Homo sapiens: one gene and its partners. The protein of the gene in region 1 purifies or fractionates together with the protein of each later gene. This does not show direct contact. Each region holds a gene or a part of one and is shown in the gene's direction. Other genes may lie near its edges. The genes, in order: SAPCD1, ARHGAP23, CTNNA2 and ARHGAP21.

Region 1 (7,679 bases):
TTTTGAGACAGAGTCTCGCTCTGTCGGCCAGGCTGGAGTGCAATGGCGTGATCTGGCTATAACCTCCACCTCCCGGGTTCAAGAGATTCTCCTGCCTCAGCCTCCCAAGTAGCTGGAATTACATGTGCATGCCACCAAGCCCAGTTAATTTTTGTATTTTGAGTAGAGACAGGGTTTCACCATGTTGGTGAGGCTGATCTCGAACTCCTGACCTCAGGTGATCTACCCACCTCAGCCTCCCAAAGTGCTGGGATTACAGGCATGAGCCACTGTGCCTGGCCAGGACCATATCTTAATTGTCTTTGTAGTTTCAGTGTTTGGTACAGTGCCTCTCACTGTTTCTTTTTGCCTTTGAGATCTTCCCTCTTTGTTACTGTGATCTTCCCTACTGGTCTTTGTTCTTCTGAGTCTGTCCCTATCACCACCTCAACCCGAGCTGGATGTGGCCTGTCCTCCTTTTTGTGTTTCTCTCACAGACTGTGTACAGTGCCCTGGGCCTGAGGGATGCCTGCCGCTCCCTGCCGCAGTCCATCCAGCTCTTTCGGGACATTGCCCAAGAGTTCTCTGATGACCTGCACCATATCGCCAGCCTCATTGGGAAAGTAGTGAGTAGAAGGAAAAAGGGAGTGCACCCAGGGAGGTCAGGGAGAGAGAATGCAGTGTGCAAGATGGGGAAACATGGAAGATATTGAGGTCAATTGGATAAAGAATGGGATGGTGGGAGGAGGCAGCAGAACTTCAGGGAAGTATCTGGAGGGTGAGAGTTAAAGGAGGACTGCAGGGAGAATTGGGGCCCAAGGAGAGCTGAGGAACAGGACAGAGGGTGCCAGGTCCTAAGAAACAGTACTTATCTCCTCAGGTGGACTTTGAGGGCAGCCTTGCTGAAAATCGCTTCACAGTCCTCCCCAACATAGATCCTGAAATTGATGAGAGTGAGTGTTGGGTGTGGATGGGCCTGTGAGCCCTGCGCAGTGATGGAGTACCATCCTTGGCAGGTGGTCACCACAGCTGGGGATCTTCATAGCAACCAGGGCAGGAGACTCACTTTTGATAACCACGTGTCTTCCACCCTCGTAGAAAAGCGAAGACTGATGGGACTTCCCAGTTTCCTTACTGAGGTTGCCCGCAAGGAGCTGGAGAATCTGGACTCCCGTATTCCTTCATGCAGTGTCATCTACATCCCTCTGGTGAGGGCAGGAGAGTGGGTGTAGCCTTCAGATGTCTTTTGGGGGAGATATTAGGCTTATGAAAGACATACTGGTAGATAAGAAAACTTGTGGGGCAGCCTGAAGAACATGAACACTTTTTTGTGGGGATACAGGGATCTTTTAAGCTCCCTCTAGGGTGGGGAGGTGTCCAGTAAGTCTCCAAGCAGGAGAGTAGAGTATCTCCTCTTTACTCTCCCCAGATTGGCTTCCTTCTTTCTATTCCCCGCCTGCCTTCCATGGTAGAGGCCAGTGACTTTGAGATTAATGGACTGGACTTCATGGTAAGACCCTCAACCTCTGTAAGGTGAGTGATGAGGAAAATGAGTCAGCAGCTGAGGAAGAGCGTTACTCTACAGCAGCACTGCCCAATATGGGATCTCTCCTCTGTAGTTTTACTCTGAGCTTTACCAGCACTGAGACAAAGGAAAGAGAAGTCAGAGTTAGGGGCTGGAGGTGGGGTTAGAAAGATGGGGAAGGAGAGGAGGACCAAGAGATGCAAAGTCCACAGCTTTGAACCCCTGTACCCAGTTTCTCTCAGAGGAGAAGCTGCACTATCGTAGTGCCCGAACCAAGGAGCTGGATGCATTGCTGGGGGACCTGCACTGCGAGATCCGGGGTGAGGAAAAGCCAGAGGTTATATGCATTGTAAGATGTTTAAAAAAAGCAGCAGCCAGGGGAAGGAGGGGAGTGGGCAACTTGGGGATGCTTCCAACAGGCCCCTCCTCTTCCTGCTCTCTGTCTCGCTCACTCTGACTCTATCTTTTCCTCTGAATGTCTTGAGGTCTCAGATTGTATCTGCAACCTGTTTCCAGATCCCCCTAGGGGCCTCTGCCTCTCCTTCACTTTCCCCTGGAACTGACCTCCAGCTCCCTTCCTCACCCACTCCCAGACCAGGAGACGCTGCTGATGTACCAGCTACAGTGCCAGGTGCTGGCACGAGCAGCTGTCTTAACCCGAGTATTGGACCTTGCCTCCCGCCTGGACGTCCTGCTGGCTCTTGCCAGTGCTGCCCGGGACTATGGCTACTCAAGGCCGCGTTACTCCCCACAAGTCCTTGGGGTACGAATCCAGAATGGCAGGTAAGAATAGAGGCGGGTGGAGGAATAGACATGAGGGGCCCAAAGGCTACATCTTCTGGGGGTTCATCTATCTTGATCCACAAGCCATGCGAGGTGCCTCTCCGCCCACTGCAGACATCCTCTGATGGAACTCTGTGCCCGAACCTTTGTGCCCAACTCCACAGAATGTGGTGGGGACAAAGGGAGGGTCAAAGTCATCACTGGACCCAACTCATCAGGGAAGAGCATATACCTCAAACAGGTGAGGAGAAGCCCTGCAGCCTGGGCCTCTGGCGTCTCCTGCATCTACTCCACCCCTACTTGCCAGCCAACTCAGGCTCCTGCAGCTCTTCTCCCATTTTCTGACCCCGCTCTTCATGAAAGGACCATCACCCACATCCCTGTGCTTCCACCTCACATGTTCTTATTCTCCACTGGAGAGCCATGCTCTAATGGAACTTTCCGTGGCCCAAATTCCTTCACCTGCCTCTGAGTAGGTACACACCACTCCCAAGTATGTCTCTGCCCACGTCCCGTGCCTCTTCACTGATTCTAAATTAGCCCACAGGGCTATGGTCAGGATTCGGGGAGGAGAGACAGAGTCAGTGTGTCTGTTACCTATTTCTCCTGTTTCACCCTGTCCATTTCTCTTTGATGTGCCATTCATGCCTTGAGCCTCACTTTCACCTCAGCCCACGGCACCAGGCCCCAGGCCCTGTCTCCTTCCCTATTCAGGTAGGCTTGATCACATTCATGGCCCTGGTAGGCAGCTTTGTGCCAGCAGAGGAGGCCGAAATTGGGGCAGTAGACGCCATCTTCACACGAATTCATAGCTGCGAATCCATCTCCCTTGGCCTCTCCACCTTCATGATCGACCTCAACCAGGTCAAAGGGAACAAAGGGAGGTGGGATTGAGGAAGGGGATAATGGGAAAGGAACCCCTGAAAATGCTCATAACAGGAAAGCATGCCCTCTGCTGCATGCCCTTTATACTAAAAGTGGGGAGCACTAAGGTCAGAGATAAGAAGAATCAATACCATAAACATTTCTTGAACCCTTGTTTCATGTGAGTCACTGTTGGCAAAGAGGATGAACAAAGCGTGCACCTCACCATTCAAGAACTTGCAGTGCAGTAGGGAGGGCATGTATACAGCTTTATTCACAGGCCAACTGTGGTCAGTGCGTTACGGGCTTCCAATACTAACTTTCCCTTGTCCACCTTATACCCAGCAGGTGGCGAAAGCAGTGAACAATGCCACTGCACAGTCGCTGGTCCTTATTGATGAATTTGGAAAGGGAACCAACACGGTGAGGGGAGAAACTGATGAGGGGAGAAACTAAGGAGGGGAAAATGGAGGAGGATGAAGGAGCATGACAGTGAGGCTGGGCCTCTGGAATGGAATAGGGCTGTGTGGGCAGAAAAGAAATAGAACACGAGACAGGGAAAGGCAGTGCAAGTGCAGAGGGGCATATGGGGTCCCCATGGCTCCGAATGCTAACCTCTGCCCTCTTTGCAGGTGGATGGGCTCGCGCTTCTGGCCGCTGTGCTCCGACACTGGCTGGCACGTGGACCCACATGCCCCCACATCTTTGTGGCCACCAACTTTCTGAGCCTTGTTCAGCTACAACTGCTGCCACAAGGGCCCCTGGTGCAGTATTTGGTGAGGAGACCAATCTAGCTCCTCGGGGACCCCCAGGCTGGGCATTTCCCAGAGGTGGGGATTGGCTCCTCTATCAGAACAAGGGCTCCCTCAGCACAGAGACCACATCCCTTCCCTTTTCTCCCTCCCCACAGGATTGGCCAAGGGTTTCAGGACAGGAAGGAGGTGATTGATGATACACTGTCTTTTATTCTCTTTTAAGACCATGGAGACCTGTGAGGATGGCAACGATCTTGTCTTCTTCTATCAGGTTTGCGAAGGTGTTGCGAAGGCCAGCCATGCCTCCCACACAGCTGCCCAGGCTGGGCTTCCTGACAAGCTTGTGGCTCGTGGCAAGGAGGTGATGAGATCCAAATGTGCAACCACCTCCACATCAGAGCTCCCTTTCATTCCTAGTCCTACTGGGCCTGGGTCTAGGTCCACAGGATTTCTGACCCTTATTTCCCCTTCTCTTCCCCACTCCCCTTACTCCTCCCACCTTCTTGCTTGTTCCTAGGTCTCAGACTTGATCCGCAGTGGAAAACCCATCAAGCCTGTCAAGGATTTGCTAAAGAAGAACCAAATGGAAAAGTGCGTATATGGCCCCAGTGTCTTTACCCTCTCTGCATCTTCTCCTGCAACTCTTCTCCCCTTTTCAGGGACTCAGCCTTCCTCCAGCACTTTGCCCTTCAGAAACCCACCATTTCTTTCTGAAATCCCTAAATCTTCAAGATCCCAGGTTTTCTGTGCCACAGCCTCTCCCCTCTGCCCAGGGATTTGGTTGTCCATTCTGCCATAAATCTTGCGATTTTCTCTCTTCTTCAGTTGCCAGACATTAGTGGATAAGTTTATGAAACTGGATTTGGAAGATCCTAACCTGGACTTGAACGTTTTCATGAGCCAGGAAGTGCTGCCTGCTGCCACCAGCATCCTCTGAGAGTCCTTCCAGTGTCCTCCCCAGCCTCCTGAGACTCCGGTGGGCTGCCATGCCCTCTTTGTTTCCTTATCTCCCTCAGACGCAGAGTTTTTAGTTTCTCTAGAAATTTTGTTTCATATTAGGAATAAAGTTTATTTTGAAGAAAGATATTGTTTCTTTAGTCTCAAAACAAGAGACTAGGAAAGATCCAAAACACAGAGCAGGAGTCCACAGGGGAACCTGCCCTGCCTCAGTAAAAATACAGTGTTGTTGCTGTAGGAAGACTCCCGGATTCTACCCCAGGATACTTCATGAGAACGAACCCCTTCAGAGAGGCCCTACAAAACAGATTAGAGGGAAGACAGAGGGGTCCAAGGGAGATGGTCTCTCTTCTCAAGTAGGAACACCCCAGCCTCAGACAGACACAGCAGGAAGGGGCCTGAGAGGCTGACAGAGGCAGGATGGGTGCAAGGCAGGGGTGGAGGGGAGGGACCAGCCCGGGCTGCACCAGTGGGAGTGGCTCCACCCTTCCCACCTCAGAGCCATGGGGAGCCAGGGCTCTGGCGGGGTGCCCTTGGTGCAGGCTCCCTACACAGTCCTGCTGCTGCCGCTGGGGACAAGCCGCCAAGACCCAGGGGCCCAGAGCTTCTTCCTTTGGGTGAGTATCAGCCCAACAAGAGGTCCCAGGGGAACTCTCTCAATAGATCTGCCCTTTATATTTCCATTCAACTTGAGGGCCCACAGTGTTCCCGCCTGCCTCCCCTTGCCCTCCAGGTCCTCAGTGGCCAGTCTGGGTTCACACTCAGTGACCACACAGTGAACCCAACTAGGGGTGGAGAGAAAGGGCCATAACCCAGAGCCCTACTGTGGCGTGAGAGTCAGCCTCTGTGATTGCCTTTCCCAGCTACGCAGGATGCAGGCTCTGGAGAGAGAACAGGATGCCCTGTGGCAGGGTCTGGAGCTGCTACAGCATGGCCAGGCCTGGTTTGAAGACCATCTGAGGGAGGCACAGCGACAGCAGCTGCATCTAGGGGCCCTTGGTGAGGTATGGGGGCTGCCCCTCTGTGTGAATGGGGGGAGGACCAGGGAGGGAGGAACAGGGAATGTGTAGACACAGCCTGAGACCACTCTGGAGAGGGGAGAGTTAATGGTCAGGGATCATGAGTTGGAGGCAGCATCGTAATGACAGGATGCCACCAAGTGTTAAGTTGGTGTTCATTGTTGGGGCTGGAGGAAGCTGGTCTGCATTCCATTCAGAGGGATTTGGATCACTCCATGGAGATGAGGGTGTGGCCTGGATTATTCCAATGGGGCAGGGATGGACAGGGAGGCTCCATGAAGAGTAGTGAAAGGGGGTATTGTGCTATTTGAGGGAGATGGAGGAACTGATGTGCTAAAGAGATGGAGGTGGAGAGTACTGGATTTTCCCACCTGCCTGGGAGGGTACTGGGACGAGGGGATCCAGATGAGAGGGATGGCCTGTGGTGACAGGAATAGAGTGGCAGACGACCTCAGGTTTTCACCATGTTGTCAGCCTCCAACTCCTCCTCTAGAATTTTCTAACAGATTTACACTCAGAGCCTGGTCGCCCCCCGTTAGCCCAGATTCAAAAGGTGAACATCTGTTTGCAGAATCTGATTCATGAGAAGGTGAGTTTATTGTTTTCAGTTTAGACTTTTGGGAAGTTGGACTAGAGAGGGGAGTTGTTGGGGTCAGTGCTGGCTTAACAGAAAACACAGCGAATTTCCCCTCCAGTTCTCCCCAAGTCCACTGAACAAGGCTAGTTCCTGCACCACCCAGGATTCAAAGGAAAGACGAAGGGAGCAGAACTTGTGGCAGCAACAGGTAAACTTCAAGAAGGAGGGCAGGAGCCCCACCCTACAGGGCTGGGAGGAGCCCAGAGGCCCCATCTGTTTCTCCTCCAGGAGTTGTCAAGGCAGCAGAAAGGAGTCACCCAGCCAAAGGAGGAGATGGCTCAGCGGGGCTGCACCAAGGGGCCAAGAGGCCCTACCCGTGTCTAAACCCTCCTCTCACTCCCCTAAGCCTGGTGAAAGAGTCAGAAGCCCCAGGCTCCTTTTTCTGTTTCTTAACTCAACAGCTAAAAAATGGCTCCAGGTAGTGAGTCAATGAAGTTCAGACATGTTGGTGTAAAGTTTCTCCTCTGCTCCTGAAAACTTCATCTTCTTGGTGTCTCATGTCCTCATTCTCCCCTATATGACATGCAAAAACGATCTTTCTTTGAAATCCCTCTGGGAAGAAGCATGTTTATTGAAACTGTCCTTCAGCCTTAAATACAAAAATAAAACTGAAACTGCTCCAGAAAGCAGCTTTCTCCAAAAATGTCTTTGGTTTGTTTCTCATAGGGTTAGGAAAAGTGCATTGTGGGAATATCCATTGCCCTCTATCCCAGTCTTGCAGGGTGTTTTGTTTTGTTTTGTTTCTGAGATAGGGTCTCACTGTCGCTCAGGCTGTAGTGCAGTGGTTCGACCACAACTCACTGCAGCCTCAACCTCCTGGGCTCAAGTGATCCTCCTGCCTCAGCCTCCCAGAGTGCTGGGATTACAGGCGTGAGCCACTGCACCCAGCCCCAGTCTCGAAGTTTCTAAGAAAGGAAAGGGATGTGATGGAGAAAGAAAACCTTCATTGGCTGGGCACGGTGGCTCACGCCTGTAATCCCAGCACTTTGGGAGGCCGAGGCAGGCAGATCACCTGAGGTCAGGAGTTTGAGACCAGCCTGGCCAACATAGTGAAACCCTGTCTCTACTAAAAATACAAAAAATTAGCCGGGCGTGGTGGCGGGCACCTGTGATCCCAGCTACTTGGGAGGCTGAGGCAGGAGAATCGCTTGAACCTAGGA
Region 2 (7,024 bases), on another chromosome or scaffold:
GAGACATGAATAGGGCCTGTGGGAGCTGGTGCTGCCTTTCCCCTAGCACCCTCCACCCGCTTCAAACAACCCGCCTTCAGATCCAGGCCCCCCTGTTTCTTGTGAAATTGTGCCAGTTTGTCAGCAGGGCAGTACCAATCTGTGCCAGGTGGGTGTCTCCTCCCCCATTGCCTCAGTGGGACATCAGGCTGAGATGGCCTTGGGGCTGGACTTTGGGGAGATTTTAAAGCCCTTTTGGGTTGGGGTGTATTTACCACCTGTCAGAGTGGGTGAGGACCAAAGGGGTGATCGTGTCCAACTCTGTTACGCTACAGTGGGGAAACAGACTGGGGAGTGCCCAAGGTCCCTCAGCCTCGGCAGACAAGGACCCATCTTCTGACTCCCAGCTCCCAGGCCATGCCTTTCCCTCTGTGGTTGGTTCTGTCCTTCGTGGCCCCCCTCAGTGCAGGGTTCATGGACTGGGCTCCAAGAGGGAGAGGGGAGGGCAGGGAGCTGCAGGGATGAGTGGACAATGTATCCTGTTCATCTCTGTGTCCCCAGTGGCCAGCACAGAGCCTGGCACAGAGCAGTTCTCCATAAATGTTTGTGAAGTACAAACCAGGGAACAGCCCCGCCTGTGGCCCCCCAGGGCGCCCCATGCCCAGCTCTACCCCTGACACTGTGATGTTCCATCTCATATCCGTCTACCCTACCAGGTAGGAGTTATTTGAGGCCGAGAAAAATGATAATAGCAACTTCTTCCATAGTGCTTACCACTATGTTGGTATATTACCATCACCCCACTTGACAGATTAAGAAACTGACACAGGCCGGGTACAGTGGCTCACACCTGTAATCCCAGCACTTTGGGAGGCCAAGGTAGGAGGATCACTTGGACTCAGGAGTTTGAGACCAGCCTGGGTGACACAAGGAGACCCAATACCTACAGAAAAATTTTAAAAATTAGCTGGGGCCAGGAGCAGTGGCTGACACCTGTAATCCCAGCACTTTGGGAGGCCAAGGCGGGTGGATCACCTGAGGTCAGGAGTTTGAGACCAGCCTGGCCAACATGGTGAAACACTGTCCCTACTAAAATTACAAAATTAGCTGGGTGAAGTGACACACACCTGTAGTCCCAGCTACTTGGGAGCCTGAGGCAGGAGAATCGCTTGAACCTGGGAGAGGGAGATTGCAATGAGCCAAGATCACGCCATTGCATTCTAGTCTGAGTGACAAGAGCAAAATGTAGTCTTAAAAAAAAAAAAAATTAGCTGGGCATGTAGTCCCAGCTACTCGGGTGGTGGAAGTGGGAAAATCACTTGAGCTGGGGGGTTCGAGTCTGCAGTGAGCTGTGATTGCACCACTGCACTCCAGCCTGGGCAACATAATGAGACCCTGTCTCAAAAAACCAAACCAAACGAAACAAAAAAGCTCTGCCTGCCTTCAGCCTGCTGAGGTCCAAATTTTAGATGTACTCCTTGTTCACTGTGTGCCCTTGGACAAGTTACTTCATTGTTTTAGCCTCGGCTTTCTTTTATTCTTTTGAGGCAGGGTCTTGTTCTGTTGCTCAGGCTGAAGTGCAGTGGTGTGAGCTTGGTACACTGCAGCCTTGAACTCCTGGGATCAAGTGAGCCTCCCTCCTCAGCCTCCTGAGTAGTTGAGACTACAGGTGCATGCCACCATGCCCAGCTAATTTTTCCATTTTGTATTTTTTATAGAGACAGGGTTTTGCCATGTTGCCCAGGCTGGTCTCAAAATTCCTGGACTCAAGTGATCCTCCCACTTTGGCCTCCCAAAGTGCGGGGATTACAGGTGTGAGCCACCACACCTGGCTGGTTTTCTTATCCCTGAAATAATCCCTCAAAATTACAGAGAGGGCTAAATGAGGTAGTATTGGTAAAGTGGCTGAGATTTAGTAATCTCAATTATTGGTAGCAACTATTATTAAAAAAAATCAATGGATAGAAATGAGAACAATGCACTTTTGCCTCAGTAAAAAGTACTGACCTTTATGGTCAGAGCAATCTAAAGAGAAAGTGACCTGCCTCTGGAGGTAATGAGGCCCCCATCACTGGAGGTGCAGTGAGGTCTGGGCAAGCACAGGCTGGAGAATGATGTGCACTAGAGAGAATTCAGCAAAGGCTTGGCACAGGAAACTTTAAGGGCCCTGCCTTGGGATCAGCACTATATGATAGGAAATTAGAGGAGCAGGTGAATCCTACTTCCTACTGTGGGGCATTGAGGAGAGCAGGCAGAGATGTCCCCAGCCTCTGGGAACATCAGGGGTTGGCTGCTATGGTTTGGACTGTGAGGCTCCCCAGAGGATAGGTAGTCCTGAGAGGCTGCCTGGAGGAGGCCTGCAAGGGTGGGTATGGTTCTGATAGGTGGGAAAATGTGGGATTGTATTCTAGGCCCAGGAAGGGCTTGGTGGCCGAGGGACAGAGAGGAGCCTGGGCCACTGGTCCTGAGGTTGGCCCCGGGGTTGCGTCATCATCCTCGTGCCTCAGTCTCCTGGGCTGCTGGGATTACAGGTGTGCCACTACACCTGGCTAATTTTTTTTATTTTTTTAGAGACAAGGTTTCGGCATGTTGGCTGGCATGTTGGCCAGGCTGGTCTCGAACTCCTGACCTCAGGTGATCCACTTGCCTTGGCCTCCCGAAGTGCTGGGATTACAAGCGTGAGCCACCGCGCCTGGCTGGATTTTGTCATCATCCTGGGTGCCCAAGGGGTTTGGGTGTATGGTGGTGGCAGTGGGGAAACTAGTAATTCCCTGTCCCGCCAACCCCCCAGCTTCTCCTGGAGGAGGAGCCAGGGCTACTCCCGGTGGCAAGGAGCCCGGGCCCGTAAGGAGCGGAACTGGGGAAAGAAAGACTTCTTATGCCCAGTGCATTTGGGGGCGTCCGGGGGTCGGGGAACAGTGGGGCCTTTGTCCCCAACCGCTGGGAATCTGGCCGAGGAGCTGGCCCTGGGTCTGGCTAGGCCCTCGGAAGGCAGGTCCTCTTTGAAGTGACCCTTTCAAAGCTCGGCCTGAATCCCTGGGAGGAGAGACAGCATGGGGCGGGGCGTGGGGATGACTGAGACCCAAGGGCCGAGGCCTGAGGGATAGAAACAGACCCGGCCTTGGCCTCTTGGGGTGTGGAGGTTGGTCGGAGGTGTGTGGGCCGGAGGAATGTGGTGGGCTGGGAGACCGCGTGGGAGCCATGTGGGAGGACAACCACGCAAGGGGCCTTAGCCCCAAGTGGGGGTGCACCTAGGCAGGGGCCGAGTTCATTCTGGCCCGAGAGTGTTTCTGTCTCCTATCTGACTTCTGTCTGGCTCTGTGCTCCTGTATCAACAGCTGCTTCTTCCTTTTTAATTTCCCCAAAAGTGTGAGAGCTTGGAAAGAATCGGGTGTGGACGCCAGACTCAGAGCTCTTGGGAGGAGGGAGAGGTGGGGACCTGGGCAATCCAGAGCTTTTCCTGCTTCTGAGAGCCCCCGAAGGCTGGAAGGAGAGGCTGGAGGGGACACCCCCACCTCCCGCATAGAGTCTCCCTTATGCTCAAGGTGGAGGAACTCTGTATTGTTCCTGAAAAGGGACAGAAGGAGGAGGAAAGCTACCCAGAGAGGGGACATCTTCCTTTGCTTCAGCTGGAGGAATATCAGAGGCCACCCTCCTTCCCTGTCTCTCCATTTGCCTCATGGGGAAACTGAGGCCTAGAGAAGGGACAGGCCAAGGGGATAGAGCAGAGAGGAAGGGACCAGCAAGAGTGGAAGGAAGCCAGCCCTGTGTGGTTGGAACTGTAGGGACTATGGTGGCTCACACCTGTAGTCTCAGCTACTCGGGAGGCTGAGACAGGAGGATTGCTTGAGAGGATGGATGCCAAGTGGGAGGAGGAAGGGGCCTCAGGTTGTTGAGTTGTCATAAGAGGGTTGTAGAGAAGTGCCCAGAGTCCCTTCAGCTCTGACCTGCGGTGATTCCATGAAAAGAGGGAGAGGAAGGAGTGGTTCCTGCTGGTGAGTTCCCAAGGTCCAAGTAGAAAGGGGCACCCCAGGCTTTTGGACTGAGCAATGCACAGGGGAGCCTTTGGCAGCCCAAGGGAGAACCTTGCCCCCGAATCTGATGCTGTTTGTACTTCTTGCCCTGGAACCCGATCTCTCCTTGGCCTCACGGCAGTCTCTGTACTGGGGAAAATTTTTTGTTGTTGTTGTTTTCGAGACAGAGTCTCGCTTTGTCACCCAGGCTGGGGTGCAATGGCGCGATCTCGGCTCACTGCAACCTCTCCCGGGTTCAAGAGATTCTCCTGCCTCTGCCTCCCGAGTAGTTGGGATTACAGGCGCCCTCTACCATGCCCGGCTAATTTTTTTGTATTTTTAGTAGAGATGGGCGTTCACCATGTTGGTCAGGCTGGTCTCAAACTCCTGACCTCAGGTGATCCGCCCGCCTCAGCCTTCCAAAGTGTTGGGATTACAGGCGTGAGCCACCGTGCCTGGCCTGGGAAGATTCTTATAAATCTCCCTTTCCTCTTCTGGAGGTGTGGCCCTGGGCTCCTCCCCAAGAGAGGTGGAGGAGGGGGCGGAGGCCCCAGGCTGCAATGGAGGCTGTCTGCGCACTGTTATCTTGCACTGGCATCACAGAGCTGAGCTTCATTAGCTCTAATGAAGCCTTGGCACTGTGCCCCTCCCACACAGCACCTAGACGTTTCAAGGAAGGCGAGGGGGACAGCTGAGGTTGGGTCCAGAGCCCAGGAGATGGTCGGGGGGATGTTTGCAAGAGGAGAGGGTAGGAGGCAGAAAATGGGGACCACACAACCAGGCTGGGGTTGCCAACATGAGGGAGAAACAGCCCCTCTTCCTTCCCCACTGGGAGCTTTTTCTTCTCCAGTGGCCCAGAGGCCTAGGTACCCCCAGTGCTAGGGAAAGCCTTATCTGAGAGACGGGATGTGGTCTGGGGATGCTGAGGATATTCCCCTCAGCTACCCCTACCCCCCCAAAAAAAACGCTGAGGAGAGTGCCCCTCCTGCCCTCTCCGTAATTTCAGCCGGGGGCAGGAGAAGGCCCTGATCCCAGCATGGGAGGCCCAGGGCTTGGGAAAGTCCGCCAGTGGGCTGGAGCCGAATCGAACCCACTGTCAGTGGTGATCACTGGTTGCTCGTGCTCTGCGTTCCAGGCTCTCTCTTGGGACCTGGATGAATGAGAAACAACCCTGCTCTCAAGGGCCTCCTTGTCTGCTTTTCCTACCGCCCAAAAGCCAGACAAAAAGTCTCCACAAAGACTGTAGAACCATGAGTTCTAAGATTTGCATCCAGCCCATCGATCAGTCCAGAACACCCCTCAGGGGCCCCCTGCCAAAAATATTAATGTAAAAACGGCCCAGTCTGACTGGGGTGATGGACCTGCAGCCTACACAAGCCAATGTCTTCACCATGGTAATCGTTGGAAAGTGAGTGTGGTCACAAAGGCGATAACGGGAGTTTAAAACTGGAAGCCGGAAGCTGGGTAGAATTGCCACAGGGATTGGTTAAAAACCAGTTGGTGATATGATTAATCTCCTTTCTCTCATCTGTTTCCAAATCTATCATTAACCTGAGGATTCTATAGTGAAATCCTTTTTGATCGATTTTCAAGTGCCGTCATAAAGGGGGTGTATAATTACAGATGCAACGACTGAGACCTGGAGTGGGCAAATAACTTCACTCAAGGTCACCAAGCATCAAATTTCAAGCTGGGCCAGGCATGGTGGCTCACATCTGTAATCCCAGAGACTTGGGAAGCTTCGACAGGAGGATTGCTTGACGCCAGGATTTTTTTTTTTTTTTGAGAGAGGGTTTTGCTCTGTCACCCAGGCTGGAGTGCAGTGGCACAATCAGGCACACACCACCATGCTTGGCTAATTTTTTTGTAGCGATGGGGGTCTCCCTATATTGCCTAGGCTGGTCTTGAACTCCTGAGCTCAAGTGATCCTCCTGCCTTGGTCTCCCAAAGTATTGGGATTACAGGCATGAACCAAAGATCAATTTGAGACCAACATGGGCAACATAGCAAGACCCTGTCTCTAAAAAATTAGCCAGGTGTGGTGGTGCACACCTGTAGTCCCAGCTACTCGGGAGGCTGAGCTGGGAATATTGCTTGGACTCAGGAGTTTGAGGCTACAGTGAGCTATGATTGCACTGCTGCACTCCAGCCTGGACAACAGAGCAAGACCCTACCCACCCCTACCCCCCCCAAAAAATATTAAAGCTGGGTCTTTCAGAATCCTAGGTCTGTCATTGTGGTGACTGCTGTATTCTCTGACAACAAGGAGCCTGGGAGGACACCCCTCACCCAGGGAAGTTAGACCCTCTTTTCCACAGCTGAGCCCTGAAATCCAAGCAAAGGTTGGCATAACGAAGGGGGGGGAGGGCAGATGTAATGGGTGGTGGGTGCAGAGAGATGTAGATTAAGTTCTGCTTCTCTGTGTCTTCTGTGATTCAGTGTGGAGTCTGGATTTGCTCGTGAGTGGCGTGGGGGACCCCAGGGTTCTGTCAATAAACATGGCTGAGCCCCTGCCTCCTCCAAAGATGGTCCAGCTCTCAGGGGAAGAAGGCTTCACTGTGGGGAGATGAGGCTTGCCAAAGCTTGAAAGATGTTTGCTAGGGCCAGGCACGGTGGCTCACGCCTGTCATCCCAGCACTTTTGGGGGCCAAGGTGGGCAAATCACGAGGGCAAGAGATCGAGACCGTCCTGGCCAACATGGTGAAACCCCATCTCTACTAAAAATACAAAAATTAGCTGGGCGTGGTGGCATGCGCCTTTAGTCCCAGCTACTTGGGGGGCTGAGGCAGGAGAATCACTTGAACCTGGGAGGTGGAAGTTGCAGCGAGCCAAGATCATGCCACTGCACACTCCAGCCTGGTGACAGAGTGAGACTCCGTCTCAAAAAAAAAAAAAAAAAAAAGATGTTTGTTGGGGCAAGAAAGGGATGGAGGAGAAGGGAGAGAAGGGTGTGCCAGGCAGAGGGACCAAGCATTAGCACAGGCAAGGAGGCATGAACCAGCTTGGCCTCTTAAGGGATTGATGAATACAAG
Region 3 (7,024 bases), on another chromosome or scaffold:
TGTTCTCTAAACTTAATGATGAGCTGCCATTAGAGGCTGTCAACAACAACAAAGCAGGAACCCTATTCTGAAAATGATAATTAAGGGACACTGATGTGTTGAGCAAAAATCAGAAGTTTGGTTTCCCATTTGTAACAGTAATTGAATATGGAGGCAAGTAGGGCCTCAGAAGACTGACGTTTTCAGGTTTTCTGTCTGTTCATAACTAACTGTATGGCCCATGCAATCAATTTACCTTCTTGGTGGCTTGGTTTTTATATTATCTCAGCAATATTTTATTGAATGCCTCTTATAGGCCAGCCACTTTGCTAATGACTAAAGAGCCACTGAATAAGAAAACTAGGGCTCCCTGCTGTCATTAGAGGTACGTTATAGAAGAGAAATATATGCTCAAAAAATACAGTAAAGTAGGAAGTGTTAGTGATAGGAGAGGAAGAGTGTCTTGTGGGAACAGATGAAAGGGGACACAGCTTAGAAAGTTGGGTGGAGGATGTGCCAAGTCAGTGGAGCCCTGTCAGGTGAAAGGGTAGGGCAGAGGAGGAAAGCTCAGGCATTTCACATAGAAGGGACAGTAGGCCAGGTGTGGTTGCTCATGGCTGTCATTCCAGCACTTTGGGAAGCAGAGGTGGGAGAATCCCTTGAGGCCAGGAGTTCAAGGCCCACCTGGGCAACATAGCCAGACCCCACTTCCACAACTTTTTTTTTTTTAACTAGCCTGGTGTGGAAGCATGCACCTGTAGTTCTAGCCACTTAAGAGGTTGAAGAGGGAGGATCACTTGGGCCCAGGAGATGGAGGCTGCAGTGAGCTTTGATAACACCACTGTACTCCAACCTAGGTCACTATAGAGACCTAGCTGTCTCTATAAAACAGACAAACAAACAAAAGAGTATATGCAAAGGCCTGGCAGCTAGAAACAGCACAAGGGTTTCTGAAGTTCAGTGTGTTACTAAGAGTCTGTGACTCCAAACTGTGTTGCAAATATTTCTATGCAAATTTCATGTGTGTGACAGCTTTCATGTGTTACACACACAGGAGCTGAAGGATCCTCACTGTCGGGATGAGATGGCAGCCGCCCGAGGGGCTCTGAAGAAGAATGCCACAATGCTGTACACGGCCTCTCAAGCATTTCTCCGCCACCCAGATGTCGCCGCTACGAGAGCCAACCGAGATTATGTGTTCAAACAAGTCCAGGAGGCCATCGCCGGCATCTCCAATGCTGCTCAAGCTACCTCGCCCACTGACGAAGCCAAGGGCCACACGGGCATCGGCGAGCTGGCTGCGGCTCTTAATGAGTTTGACGTAAGCATCCTGGTGAGGTACACAGAGGGGTGGGCACTGGTGTTGACAAAAAAAAAAAATGTATTGAGGATGAAGGGCCACTACAATAATTTACATTGATTTTTCTCTTTTGGAGGTTTTAATAGTAAGATAAACTACATAATGCATTTCTGTAATATATTGGCTAAGCCATTATCACTTGTCTTTAAAGAAACAACTGTGGCTGCGGTGGCTCACCCCTGTAATCCCAGAACTTTGGGAGGCCGAGGTGGGTGGATCACCTGAGGTCATGAGTTCGAACATGGAGAAACCCCGTCTCTACTAAAAATGTAAAACATTAGCTGGGCGTGGTGGCGCATGCCTGTAATCCCAGCTACTCGGGAGGCTGCGGCAGGAGAATCGCTTAAACTCGGGAGGCGGAGATTGCGGTGAGCCGAGATCGTGCCATTGCACTCCAGCCTGGGCAACAACAGCAAAACTCCGTCTCGGGGAAAAAAGAAGAAACAACTGTATTTAAGAGTGCCCAATCCCTTCCAGGTAGATGAGATAACTTACAGGCTATTTTAGGGACAGTTCATAATTTGACGATCATCTTTATTATTAAAGGGGCACATGTTATGGGCAGCCTAGATGTACGTTGCCTCTATGTTGTGCCTGCGTGAAAAGCTGCCATCAATTTCTTTGTTTTAAATCAGTGATAAAGTACATTGCCCTATGATCCCACACAGGACCCTGGTCTTCATTAGAACAGACCCTCTGGGGAGAGCCTGTGTTAGTTCTCTGAAAGTCCTACATTCTACACTGGCTGTTTCTGTAGGTGTGTCCTGGTGAGGGAAGAAGCAAGGAGGATTGTTCACTGTGCTGAGCCATATGTGAAGCATCAGTGTGAGTGAGAAGGTTGCACGCATGTCATCAGCACCCCGGGATGACAGCCCCCATTCCCCCCGGGTCAGAGGACCTGTGAGAAGTTGGAATTTATTTATCTTATGATCAATGAAAGCCTACAAAGATTTATAAATAATTAGCATCTACTTTCCAGGGTTAAATAACCCTGCAGGGGAGATGAGGGAAGTAGAATGCACTAAACACCATTTAATTGATAAAACACAATGTTACAGGAATTCATAGAAGAAAAATAGGTTACTTAATGGTCATGAAGAAAGATGATGAGCTTGCTTTTGAATATGTTGATGTGAATTTTTGGCAAGAAATAACTAGTTAGCAGCTGGAAAAAAAGGTCCAGGAGCAAAGCAATGATTGTTCAAGGCTTGGAGATGGATGATATAACTGAGGAATAATTTTAACAGTTCATACTCAAATAGTTCTTACCATTTTCATAGTGGTCTCTCCTCTTTCCCATATTTTTACAGTTAGTTATATGTATCTCACACCATATATTATTTCCTAAGGTTTTTTTTGTGAGGATTAAATATGATAATATATTTAAAGCACTTGCTACAGAAATGAAGACTTAATAATAGGTAATTTTATTCACAAAATTGCAGCGAGCAACTGAAAATTCATAGAAAATAATGAGAGTTCAAAATAATGTTTACTTTATATAACATAAATATACAAAAATCTCTAGATTTTCATCATGTAAAATAAAGTAGAATAACGAGGAGATATTCACAAAACAAATAATTTTTAAAAAGTTAATTTTATTTTATTATTTCTTATATCTGCTAGAAATAAGTCTAATATAGATGTGAAGGACCTAAAAAGTCAAATTATATTACTTTATTGAGGGACAAGTTTTACTTGTCAGTAAATGATATCATGATCTTGAGTAGGAGAACTATTGATCCTATCAGTTTTCATAATGTTGAAGCAATCTCAATACAAATTCTAAGAGGATTCTTTTGGAACTTGACAGAGGAGTGATAAAGGATTTTTGTTTGTTTGTCTTTTTTTATATTCTAGAATAAAGAATGAATGAGCCCATATTTCAGGGAAAAGTAAATGAGCAGGTCATACACACAGATATTAAAACATTGTAATGCTACATTAATTTTAAAGGTGTGTATTGAAACACAAATGGACTCATCCATGAAAGAATAAAAATCATAGGCAATCTCAAATACAAAATTATTTTATAAATTGGTGTTTATTAAAATTAGTTAAGAATGGATTATTTAGTCAGATTTTGACACAATTACATTATTCTAGTTATAATTTATTTTATAATCAAAAATAAACAACAAAACCTAAGTGAGGAGCTGGTTAAGAGTGAAAATATGAAGCACAGAGAGAAGGCCTGTGAACAGTCCAGGAACTTCAGCTGCTGCCACCTTCTGTCCAAGAGTGTGACAACTGCTGCTTCCCCATGCTGCCTTTTGTTTCCAGACGATTTTCATTAAAAGCACCTTTTATCCCCAATTAATGTAACAACCGATGCGTCAGTGCAACAGTGCAAAAGGCTTTCATTCATAAAAATCAAACTTGAGGTCATGTGGGGAAAATCTATTAGCAAAGTATGTCAACATGTTGAATGTTCAAGGTTTTTTTTTTGTTGTTGTTGTTTTTCCTGAAGTGATATCTCCTCATGCTGGACAAATAAGGCTTTGGAAATTTAACACATGAATATAACCATCAAACATGTTTTTTATAAAACATGATATATTTGAAACAGTTGGAAAAATTAAAATATAAAGTATAATATGGTAAATAAGTCACTAACTATATTTTATTAACTTTAAACTTCTATATTAACTAATTATATTACTTATAATATTAACTCAGTATATTATATATGAATGAAAAAATTATATTTTATATTAGCTAAGTATATTAATGAGGTAATATATTCTTATTAAATGTATACTGTTTCTCAAGCTATGAGAATTACATAAAGCGTTATCTAATGGTCAACATTTTACTTCTTGGAGGTCAACAAAAATCAAAATGTGGAGGCTGTCTGAATTGCAGTTTTGAAACAATAATTCCATTTGATGTGGTTCCCTAACAATTGTCATTTAACAAATGCAATTTAATTTCAGCACTTTCTCAAAAGTAGTAATGCTAGTAAATTAGTATTGAATTTACAGACTGTAATGTGATTCACCTGCTGTAGATTTTCCATCACTTCTGACATCAGCAAACCTAGACAGTAGTTAATGATACTTGAAATTTTCTCATTAAAATAATATACCGTTTCTCTTTATTTTATGACTAAATTATAAATTTCTGTTCCATAGTTGTATGATGAATACTGTTTTTTTAAAAATTTCTTAGGCATGCTAACTTGAAATTGATTTTGAATTCATGGACATCTGTCATGAGTCCTAAATGCTATTCTCAGATATTAAACAAATTGATATTTCATTGGGTGAAAAACTCACTCAAACTTCCTGTGGTTTACTTTTCTGGCAAAATCTCTTACTGATACTTGGTATAATACCTTTCTCATATAGTGAAAATTTAAATAAGTTTAACGTCTTTGAAATGCTGAAGTAAAAGGAACCATAAAAATGCAAAATATATTTTCATAGACAGCACAGCTAGTTTGCCCTAAAATTTATTTTTTAAAAATTTTACTTTAAGTTCCAGGATACACGTGCAAAATGTGCAGGTTTGTTATCTAGGTTTACATGTGCCATGGTGATTTGCTGCACCTATTGACCCATCCACTAAGTTCCCTTCCCTTGCCCCCACCCCGCAACAGTCCCTGGTGTGTGTTGTTCCCCTCCCTGTGTCCATGTGTTCTCATTGTTCAACTCCCACTTAGGAATGAGAACATGTGGTGTTTGGTGTTCTGTTCCTGTGTTAGTTTGCTGAGGATGATGGCTTCCAGCTTCATCCACGTCCCTGCAAAGGACATGATATTATTCCTTCTTATGGCTGCATAGTATTCCATGGTGTATATGTAGCACATTTTCTTTATCCAGTCTATCATTGGTGGGCATTTGGGTTGGTTCCATAACTTTGCCATTGTAAATAGTGCTGCAGTAAACATACATGTGGATGTGGCTTTACGGTAGAAAGACTTATATTCCTTTGTGTATATACCCAATAATGGGATTGCTGGGTCTAATGGTATTTCTGGTTCTAGATCTGTAAGGAATTGCCATACTGTCTTCCACAATAGCTGAACTAATTTACATTCCCACCAACAGTGTAAAAGCGTACCTGTTTCTCCACAGCCTTGCTAGCACCAATTGCATCTATAGCATCTATCTATTCTTGACTTTTTAATAATTGCCATTCTGACTGGCCTGAGATGGTATCTCATTGTGGTTTTGATTTGCATTTGTCTAATGATGAGTGATGTTGAGCTTTTTTTCATGTTTGTTGGCCATGTAAACATCTTCTTTTGAGAAGTGTCTGTTCATATCCTTTCTCCACTTTTGGATGGGGTTGTTTGTTTTTGTAAATTTAAGTTCCTTGTAAATTCTGAATATTAGACTTTTGTCAGATGAGTCGATTGTAAAAATTTTCTCCCATTCCGTAGATTGCCTGTTCACTCTGATGATTCTTTTGCTGTGCAGAAGCTCTTTAGTTTGGTTAGATACCATTTGTCAATTTTGGCTTTTGTTGCAATTGCTTTTGGTGTTTTCATCATGAAGTCTTTGCCCATGCCTATTTCCTGAATGGTATTGCCTAGGTTTTCTTCTAGGGTTTTTATGGTTTTGGGTTTTACATTTAAGTCTTTAATACATCTTGAGTTAGTTTTTGCATAAGGTGTAAGGAAGGGGTCCAGTTTTAGTTTTCTGCCTATGACTAGCCAGTTTTCCAGCACTATTTATTTAATAGGAGATTATTTCCCCATTGCTTGTTTTTGTCAGATTTGTCAAAGATCAGATGGTTGTAGATGTGTGGTGTTATTTCTGAGGTCTCTCTTCTGTTCCGTTGGTCTGTCTGTTTTGGGACCAGTACCATGCTGTTTTGGTTACTGTAGCCTTGTAGTTTAGTTTGAAGTCAGGTAGCATGATGCCTCTAGCTTTGTTCTTTTTGCTTAGGATTGTCTTGGCTATACGGGGTCTTCTTTAATTCCATATGAAATTTAAAGTAGTTTCTTTTTCTAATTCTGTGAAGAATGTCAATGGTAGTTTGATGGAAGTAGCATTTATTCTATAAATTACTCTGGGCAGTATGGCCATTTTCACAATGCTGATTCTTCCTATCCATGAGGTTGGAATGTTTTTCCATTTTTTTGTGTCCTCTCTTAATTCCTTGAGCAGTGGTTTGTAGTTCTCCTTGAAGAGGTCCTTCACATCCTTGTTAGCTGTATTCCTAGGTATTTTATTATCTTTGTAGCTATTGTGAATGGGAGTTCATTCATGATTTGGCTCTCTGCTTGTCTGTTATTGATGTAAAGGAATGCTTGTGATTTTTGCACATTGATTTTGTATCCTGAGACTTTGCTGAAGTTGCTTATCAGTTTAGGGAGTTTCTGGGCTGACATGATGGGGTTTTCTTGATATACAATCATGTTGTCTGCAAACAGAGAAAATTTGACTTCCTATCTTCCTATTTGAATATGCTTTATTTCTTTATCTTACCTGATTGCCCTGTCCAGAATTTCTAATACTATATTGAACAGGAGTGGTGAGAGAGGGCAGTTTTGTTATGTATTGGTTTCCAAAGGGAATGCTTCTTGCTTTTGCCCATTCAATATGATATTGGTTGTGGGTTTGTCATGAATAACTCTTGTTATTTTGAGGTATGTTCCATCAATACTTAGTTTATTGAGAGTTTTTAATGTGAAGCGATGTTGAATTTTATCAAAGGCCTTTTCTGCATCTA
Region 4 (7,024 bases), on another chromosome or scaffold:
AAATGGCATGATATCCAGATTAAAGAGTGAAAAAAAAAACCATTTATAAATAGATTTTTCTACATTAAAAAAAGTATTCCTTAAAAAAATTCTAATTATTGCATTAATTTGGTACTTTTTGTCCTGTGTATCAGCTACATGTAGAATATATTGTCTTACGTTTTGGCAATGTAAAAAGGAAATCTAAGTATTTAAAAAGGAACTCTGCTTTTCTTATTAGTTTATTAGCAATGGGTTATTCCGTTGTCCTTTAGGAAGTGGCAAATCAGTTTTAAATTTTTATGTCTCTTTTCTTAGTTTATTTTAAATTACCTTTATAACTTTGTTTCATTTTATTTTAAAAATATTAAGTTAAACAAATATAAAAATATCAATATATGCATCCAGTAGATTTCAACAGAAAAAGACTTTGCCATAAAAATTTTCTATAATATTTGGACAGCTTATATATAAGAACATTTTAATGCTGTCAGAAGAGTTTAAAAATTTTAAGAAAGCTCACTTTGGATGTGGATAGAGTTGCTTAGCCATATAAAGTTGATGAACTCTGTTAATTAGTTATGTATACAATTGTTGGAGAACTCCTGCAGTATCTGTCATTTGTGTGCTCTAAGACGTAAGTCTTTCACTCAACAGGTTTTTTGGACCGATTTTTAAATTTTCTATTCCGTTACTGTTTTTGATATGTTTTGCTACATTTATTTTATTTGATTAGCTTTGTTCATATTGCCTTCCCAACTAAAGTTGGGATTTCACAGTCCTTGACTTTGATATGAATACACTGCCTAACTCAGTTTATGCTCCACAATTTTTATCCTTCCTCTCCTCACAAATAATGTAGTGAGCTAAATCTGCCACCTGCTACACTAGTTATATGTAAATGCAGAGGAAGGGTGTTGCTTAATGTGCTTATCCTGTCACAAAGATTTAGCCAAATATTGACTATTAAAGAACTGTCGCATGTTTTCTAGCGAGTTGGTGGAAGTATTCGGCCATGGAAACAGATGTATGTTGTCCTTCGGGGTCATTCACTTTACCTGTACAAAGATAAAAGAGAGCAGACGACTCCGTCTGAGGAAGAGCAGCCCATCAGTGTTAATGCTTGCTTGATAGACATCTCTTACAGTGAGACCAAGAGGAAAAATGTGTTTCGACTCACCACGTCCGACTGTGAATGCCTGTTTCAGGCTGAAGACAGAGATGATATGCTAGCTTGGATCAAGACGATCCAGGAGAGCAGCAACCTAAACGAAGAGGTGGGTGTTCAAAGGAATGCTGGAGAAATCTGACCCTTTCACAACACTTTCTTACAAAGATCTAAGGAATATGATATATCATTTTTATAAAAAAATTATAATGTGCTATTTTCATGTAAAACAGTTGATGAAAAGGAAAACTCAAACATACCTGTTTTATATTATTTTCACACATTGGAAAATCACCATCACTGAACTAGAAAAATAGGTTATTTATATATGCTGTATACCTTCTCAGAAGCAATGAACTACATTCCTAGTCCTGGTTGTTTGTGACCAAGTTATTCCAGATCCATTTCCATCTTTCAAAGACAGGATTGTTGTAGGGCTTAAGTTACAGTAAAAATACTTACCAGTATAAATAACTATATAAATGCAGAGTGATACTGATGATTTTTGTTAAGAGAACTATACAGTCAAGAATATGGAATAGCCTACTGTCACACAATAGTTAGTTTCTAAGAAAACTTGCATTTTCAAAAATCATAAGTCAGCTTTTTTTTTTTTTTTTTTGAAACGAAGTCCTGCTCTGTTGCCCAGGCTGGAGTGCAGTGGCGCGATCTTGGCTCACTGCAAGCCCTGCCTCCCGGGTTCACACCATTCTCCTGCCTTAGCTTCCCCTGTAGCTGGGATGACAGGCAGCCGTCACCATGCCCGGCTAATTTTTTGTATTTTTAGTAGTGATGGGGTTTCACCGTGTTAGCCAGGATGGTCTCTATCTCCTGACCTTGTGATCTGCCCGCCTCGGCCTCCCAAAGTGCTGGCATTACAGGCGTGAGCCACCGCGCCCGGCCCAGCATTTCTTTTTCATGCAGAACAGTGTTTAGGGATTTGAGAATTTACAGCTTATGATCATCAAGGTATTTTCACAGTAGGAATTTCAATAGTAAAGATAGTTTTTAAAGTATGTATAACTATAAACTTTATCAAGCAAATCTAGCAATGATGAAGTAGCAGTTGCTCAAGTATTTTCTTATCATTAACACAGTTTTTTCTTCACTGTGTTCTCACTTTTCATGCCTATTTATTATAACCAAAAAAGGGGCACGAAGTTCTCTTTTAATACTCAGGAATGCCTACATTAAATGTAAACTTATGCAAATTATGTTCTAATTTAGTCATTTCCATTATATCCAATTCAAAGTATTAAAACGTTACACCATAGGAAAAGTGTGCTTTTTTTCCTTTGGTAGTTTACACTCTGCCTTGTTTGTGGTTAAAAATAACACCAGATCTTTATCAGTGCAACCTATGTTGTACAACTACCCGCTATACAGAGGGCATCAGACCTGAATTTTTGCAAAATAAACAGGGAGAATAAGAACTTAGATGTGGATTTCAGCTTTAAGTAATAGTTCAGAGGAGTTCTGTGTAACAGGCACCTACTATGTGTCAGGCATTCTCTCAGGCAGTAGACTGTCATTGTTAAAACTCCTTCAGATGACTTGTTCTGTGACACATAGTGGCTGTTTGGAGGATTGAATGAGATAATGCATGTGAAGAATGCCTGCCAAGTAATAAACATTTACTTAATGTGAGCTATTAGCATCACCATCTAATCTTAAGACACAGGTACACAAGTATTTTCCCCAGTTTTATAGATGAGAAAACAATAATTCACTGAGCACATACCATATGGCAGATACTATTTTAAACATACTACATGCATTAATCTCAGCAACCATATGAATGTGTCCTATTATCATCACCACCATTCTAAAAATAAGGAAACAGTGGCAAAGAGAGGCTAAATAATTTCCCTAAGGTCACACAGTGACTTAAGCATCAGGGGTAGGATTTAAATCCAGGCAGTCTTATTCTAGATCTTAATCATATGATCTCTCAGCTGATAAGTTGGAAGAGTCTATTTAAATTCAAGATAACTTACTCCCGTATTTAAAGACTGTATTCTTTGTAAACTGTATCATCATTCACTATCATCAAAATGAGGCAAGTTAAAAAAAATTGAGAACCCCAGTCAATATCAATGTATAATTGGAATGAATAGGAAAAAAAGGATCACTTTATGGTCAACTCTGGGTTTACCATATAGCATTTCATACAAGGTAACTCACAGAGGTTAAAAAAAAATCATGCAAATTTTGAGCTTTTCTCTTATCTTCTGATAATGTAACTGCCGCTTGTGATACTAGTTGATCCTTGGTTTCACTATCCTTAAAAATTAGTCAGTCACTAACAAATTCTGGCAGTCTGTTTTCATCTTTTATCCACCTATATTATTTGTTTTTCTTTTTGAAGAAAAATCACTTACACGTATATTTCTTAAATGCTGATCATTCTTTCTGGTATTAGAGAAAACACTGGCTGCTTCCTAGTCATTTATTTTAAATGGACGGATCAATTCAATAAGTATTGAACACATGTTACTTGCTGGTACTATCCTAGGTATCGCATGGATACAGAAAAGAAGCAAAACCCTTTGGCAATGTTGGGAGGCACTTGGAAAATCTTTCACACAGTGATGTTGAATAGAAGCTTTGAAACAGCTCCACTGAGAACAGATGATAGTAGTGTTTGTGTTAAATAAGCAAAGCAGTACAATAGAAAGCCTCAAAAAAGTAAGGATCACTTATTTATGTTTAGAATTGATTTTCTAATTTTACTTTATTCTGTAGGACACTGGAGTCACTAACAGGGATCTAATTAGTCGAAGAATAAAAGAATACAACAATCTGATGAGGTGAGAATCCCACCTTGCCTGCAGTTAATTTGGATATAAAATCAGTACAGTCATCCCCCTTATTTGCAAGGATACATTCCAAGACCCCCAGTGGATGCTTGAAACCGCAGATAGTACCAAATCCTCTCTACGCTATATTTTTTCCCATATAGTAATGGGCGGGTAGTGTATACAGTGTGGCTACTCGGGATGAAAGGATGATTCTTATTCTGGGCAGGACTACAAAATTGAAAGCTTATGAATTGTTTATTCCAAGAATTTTCCAGTTAATATTTTCAGACCATGGCTCACCACGGGTAACTGAAACCATAGATAGAGGGGGATTACTGTAATTGTTAACAAATGTCATTTCCTTCAACAGCAAAGCAGAACAGTTGCCAAAAACACCTCGCCAGAGTCTCAGCATCAGGCAAACTTTGCTTGGTGCTAAATCAGAGCCAAAGACTCAAAGCCCACACTCTCCGAAGGAAGAGTCGGAAAGGAAACTTCTCAGTAAAGGTATTGATGTTAGCTTTCTAACAAATAAATATAATGATTTAAAATTGGCATCGTTGAGGTACGTTTATGTTTTCTGTACCATTTCTACTGACCAGGCCCCATGTCAACTAGCTCAAAATTCATAGTAGGCTTGGTCTGGGCTCATTGGGCCTTTCCCTTTGTGAGGCCCAAGACACCAGCTTCATTATAAAGCGAAAGTGAGGGAAAATACAAACAATACTTAAATCAGAGACATTACAAATTTAAATGACTCCGAGGATTCAGGTCCTATCATTTTGAAATAAAACTATTACTTTTCCCTTTGTTGAAGTCTCACTATAAAGATGACACACTGATTCTATGTAGTTTTTTTTTTTGCTGTTTTAAAGAAAATTATAGCACGCATTATAAAAGAATGAAGTAAAAGTTATATGGAAGAGAACATATTTTTGTTAAATATAGGATGTATTATTTATATTACAGGACTTGGATTTATGTAAACATTGATAAAGTGTTTTTAAAGTCATGATTTAGACACTCATTTCCATTTTATTATGTTGTTTTATTTTGACTGGCAATCAAAAGATGATACCAGTCCCCCAAAAGACAAAGGCACATGGAGAAAAGGCATTCCAAGTATCATGAGAAAGACATTTGAGAAAAAGCCAACTGCTACAGGAACTTTCGGCGTCCGACTAGATGACTGCCCACCAGCTCATACTAATCGGGTAGGAGACACCAGCCCACCGGATTTCCTCAAGTCATTAATTCAGTTTTGATTATAATGGGATCTGAGTATATAGCCTTTCAGACAACAGAGACTGTCAATCTGTTTTCCTTTTCATAGCAGACCTTAGTTTCCCTAAGTATTTCTGACCTGTAATGCTTTTTTTCTAATGTATTGACTCCGAAATTGAATAATTATTCAACCATTAGGAATTTGTCTGAAATGGTCTGTAAGAATTCGTCTTCAAATCGTGTGTTTCTGCTTTTAGCATTTTAAAACAAGGATGAGAACAAGGACCTGATTAAGAAAGTATAATACATGTAAATGTATGTGCATATATTTAAAACACCCATGCTAGGATTCGTATCATGAATTGATATTACTCTCTCCTCCTCTTTTCTTGACTCTTTATTCAGCGGAACGGTTTCCACATTCTCTTTACCTGTTGTTACTTCCTTTTTAGAATGTTATCTCTCTGGGGGTCCCTCTCTTTCTTTCAGTCTCTTTGTTCTCTTCTTACTGTCTCAAATATCTCTTGCAGGTTTTATCTATTCCCAGATCTATAATGTCTGTATTCTTTATATTACATAACAGCAATTTATGTTTCCTTTTGGATGAAAGGGGCATTTTAGCTGTGATATACAACTACTAAACATTTGTGCTGCATTAAATAAAATGTTTATTTCTTGTTTTGCAGTATATTCCATTAATAGTTGACATATGTTGCAAATTAGTTGAAGAAAGAGGTCTTGAATATACAGGTATTTATAGAGTTCCTGGAAATAATGCAGCCATCTCAAGTATGCAAGAAGAACTCAACAAGGGAATGGCTGATATTGATATACAAGATGATGTAAGTTTGCTTATTTGAATAACTGATCCTTTTTTTTCCCCCTTTGGTGGAACTGGATATGAAAATACTATATTTCTATTTTGTACACCTAGAAATGGCGAGATTTGAATGTGATAAGCAGTTTACTAAAATCCTTCTTCAGAAAACTCCCTGAGCCTCTCTTCACAAATGGTGAGTTAACTCCCGTGAAAGATACCAGATGAAATGGTTCAAGTTACAATTGGAAAACCATAGAATATTAAATTGAACAAGGACAAAATGTCTTGGTCAAAGGAAGCAGGAGGCTTTATTTAGTTCTCCCTCATATATTAAAAACATAAAAGTTATTTAGGTTCAGTGAAATATGTATTATCTTGTTCATACATGTTTGCAGCCAAATTAATATTATTGTTTCCAGTCAAATGGCTTCTGACATCATAAGGTACAATGAGTAGAAAAATGTTTTTTCAGTCAAGCCAAGTATTTAAGTGCCATGTAAGACACTTTACTAGATGTTGTTGGAGGGTGGGGGAGGAATGGACAGGCTGTGTAAATATAGGATGGTTCCTGCAGGGAACTTACATTTTAGAAATTTACATTTCAAAACTATTAGAACTCTTTCCTATGTTGTGGTTTAAAATTGATCCTTAAAGGGAAACTAGATTACAATTCACCTAGGCAATTTAAGATAAATTTGTTTTATTGTTCTTGTCGTCAGATAAATATGCTGATTTTATTGAAGCCAATCGTAAAGAAGATCCTCTAGATCGTCTGAAAACATTAAAAAGACTAGTAGGTATTATTTTATATTTTGGGGGATACAACTAAAATTCAGCCTCTGAATCCATTGTGAAAATAATCTGTTTCAGATTCACGATTTGCCTGAACATCATTATGAAACACTTAAGTTCCTTTCAGCTCATCTGAAGACAGTGGCAGAAAATTCAGAAAAAAATAAGGTATGTAAAATGCTTATTGAAGAAATGTACTTTTAGTGGCTTTAGTTTAAAAGATATGCTTCATTACTTCAT

Evidence for each region.
Region 2: the proteins of SAPCD1 (region 1) and ARHGAP23 purify together in Homo sapiens (affinity purification with mass spectrometry; 3 studies listed by BioGRID and IntAct, with this or other methods). This does not show direct contact.
Region 3: the proteins of SAPCD1 (region 1) and CTNNA2 purify together in Homo sapiens (affinity purification with mass spectrometry; 3 studies listed by BioGRID and IntAct, with this or other methods). This does not show direct contact.
Region 4: the proteins of SAPCD1 (region 1) and ARHGAP21 purify together in Homo sapiens (affinity purification with mass spectrometry; 3 studies listed by BioGRID and IntAct, with this or other methods). This does not show direct contact.

Annotation. Positions count from the first base shown.
Region 1 is NC_000006.12:31,757,689-31,765,367, forward strand, and holds SAPCD1 (suppressor APC domain-containing protein 1), read left to right. Parts: upstream 1-4,967; 5' UTR 4,968-5,366; coding exon 5,367-5,480; intron 5,481-5,726; coding exon 5,727-5,867; intron 5,868-6,375; coding exon 6,376-6,471; exon of another isoform or gene 6,472-6,577; coding exon 6,578-6,667; exon of another isoform or gene 6,668-6,747; coding exon 6,748-6,843; 3' UTR 6,844-7,162; downstream 7,163-7,679. Other genes in the region: MSH5 (mutS protein homolog 5), read left to right, coding at 477-605, 860-932, 1,078-1,187, 1,409-1,489, 1,737-1,824, 2,098-2,287, 2,402-2,528, 3,002-3,151 and 5 more.
Region 2 is NC_000017.11:38,431,448-38,438,471, forward strand, and holds part of ARHGAP23 (rho GTPase-activating protein 23), read left to right. Parts: intron 1-7,024.
Region 3 is NC_000002.12:79,873,043-79,880,066, forward strand, and holds part of CTNNA2 (catenin alpha-2), read left to right. Parts: intron 1-1,033; coding exon 1,034-1,300; intron 1,301-7,024. UniProt on the Homo sapiens protein: May function as a linker between cadherin adhesion receptors and the cytoskeleton to regulate cell-cell adhesion and differentiation in the nervous system. Required for proper regulation of cortical neuronal migration and neurite growth.
Region 4 is NC_000010.11:24,594,878-24,601,901, reverse strand, and holds part of ARHGAP21 (rho GTPase-activating protein 21), read left to right. Parts: intron 1-971; coding exon 972-1,256; intron 1,257-3,892; coding exon 3,893-3,957; intron 3,958-4,318; coding exon 4,319-4,455; intron 4,456-5,019; coding exon 5,020-5,162; intron 5,163-5,858; coding exon 5,859-6,014; intron 6,015-6,106; coding exon 6,107-6,185; intron 6,186-6,711; coding exon 6,712-6,785; intron 6,786-6,862; coding exon 6,863-6,952; intron 6,953-7,024. UniProt on the Homo sapiens protein: Functions as a GTPase-activating protein (GAP) for RHOA and CDC42. Downstream partner of ARF1 which may control Golgi apparatus structure and function. Also required for CTNNA1 recruitment to adherens junctions.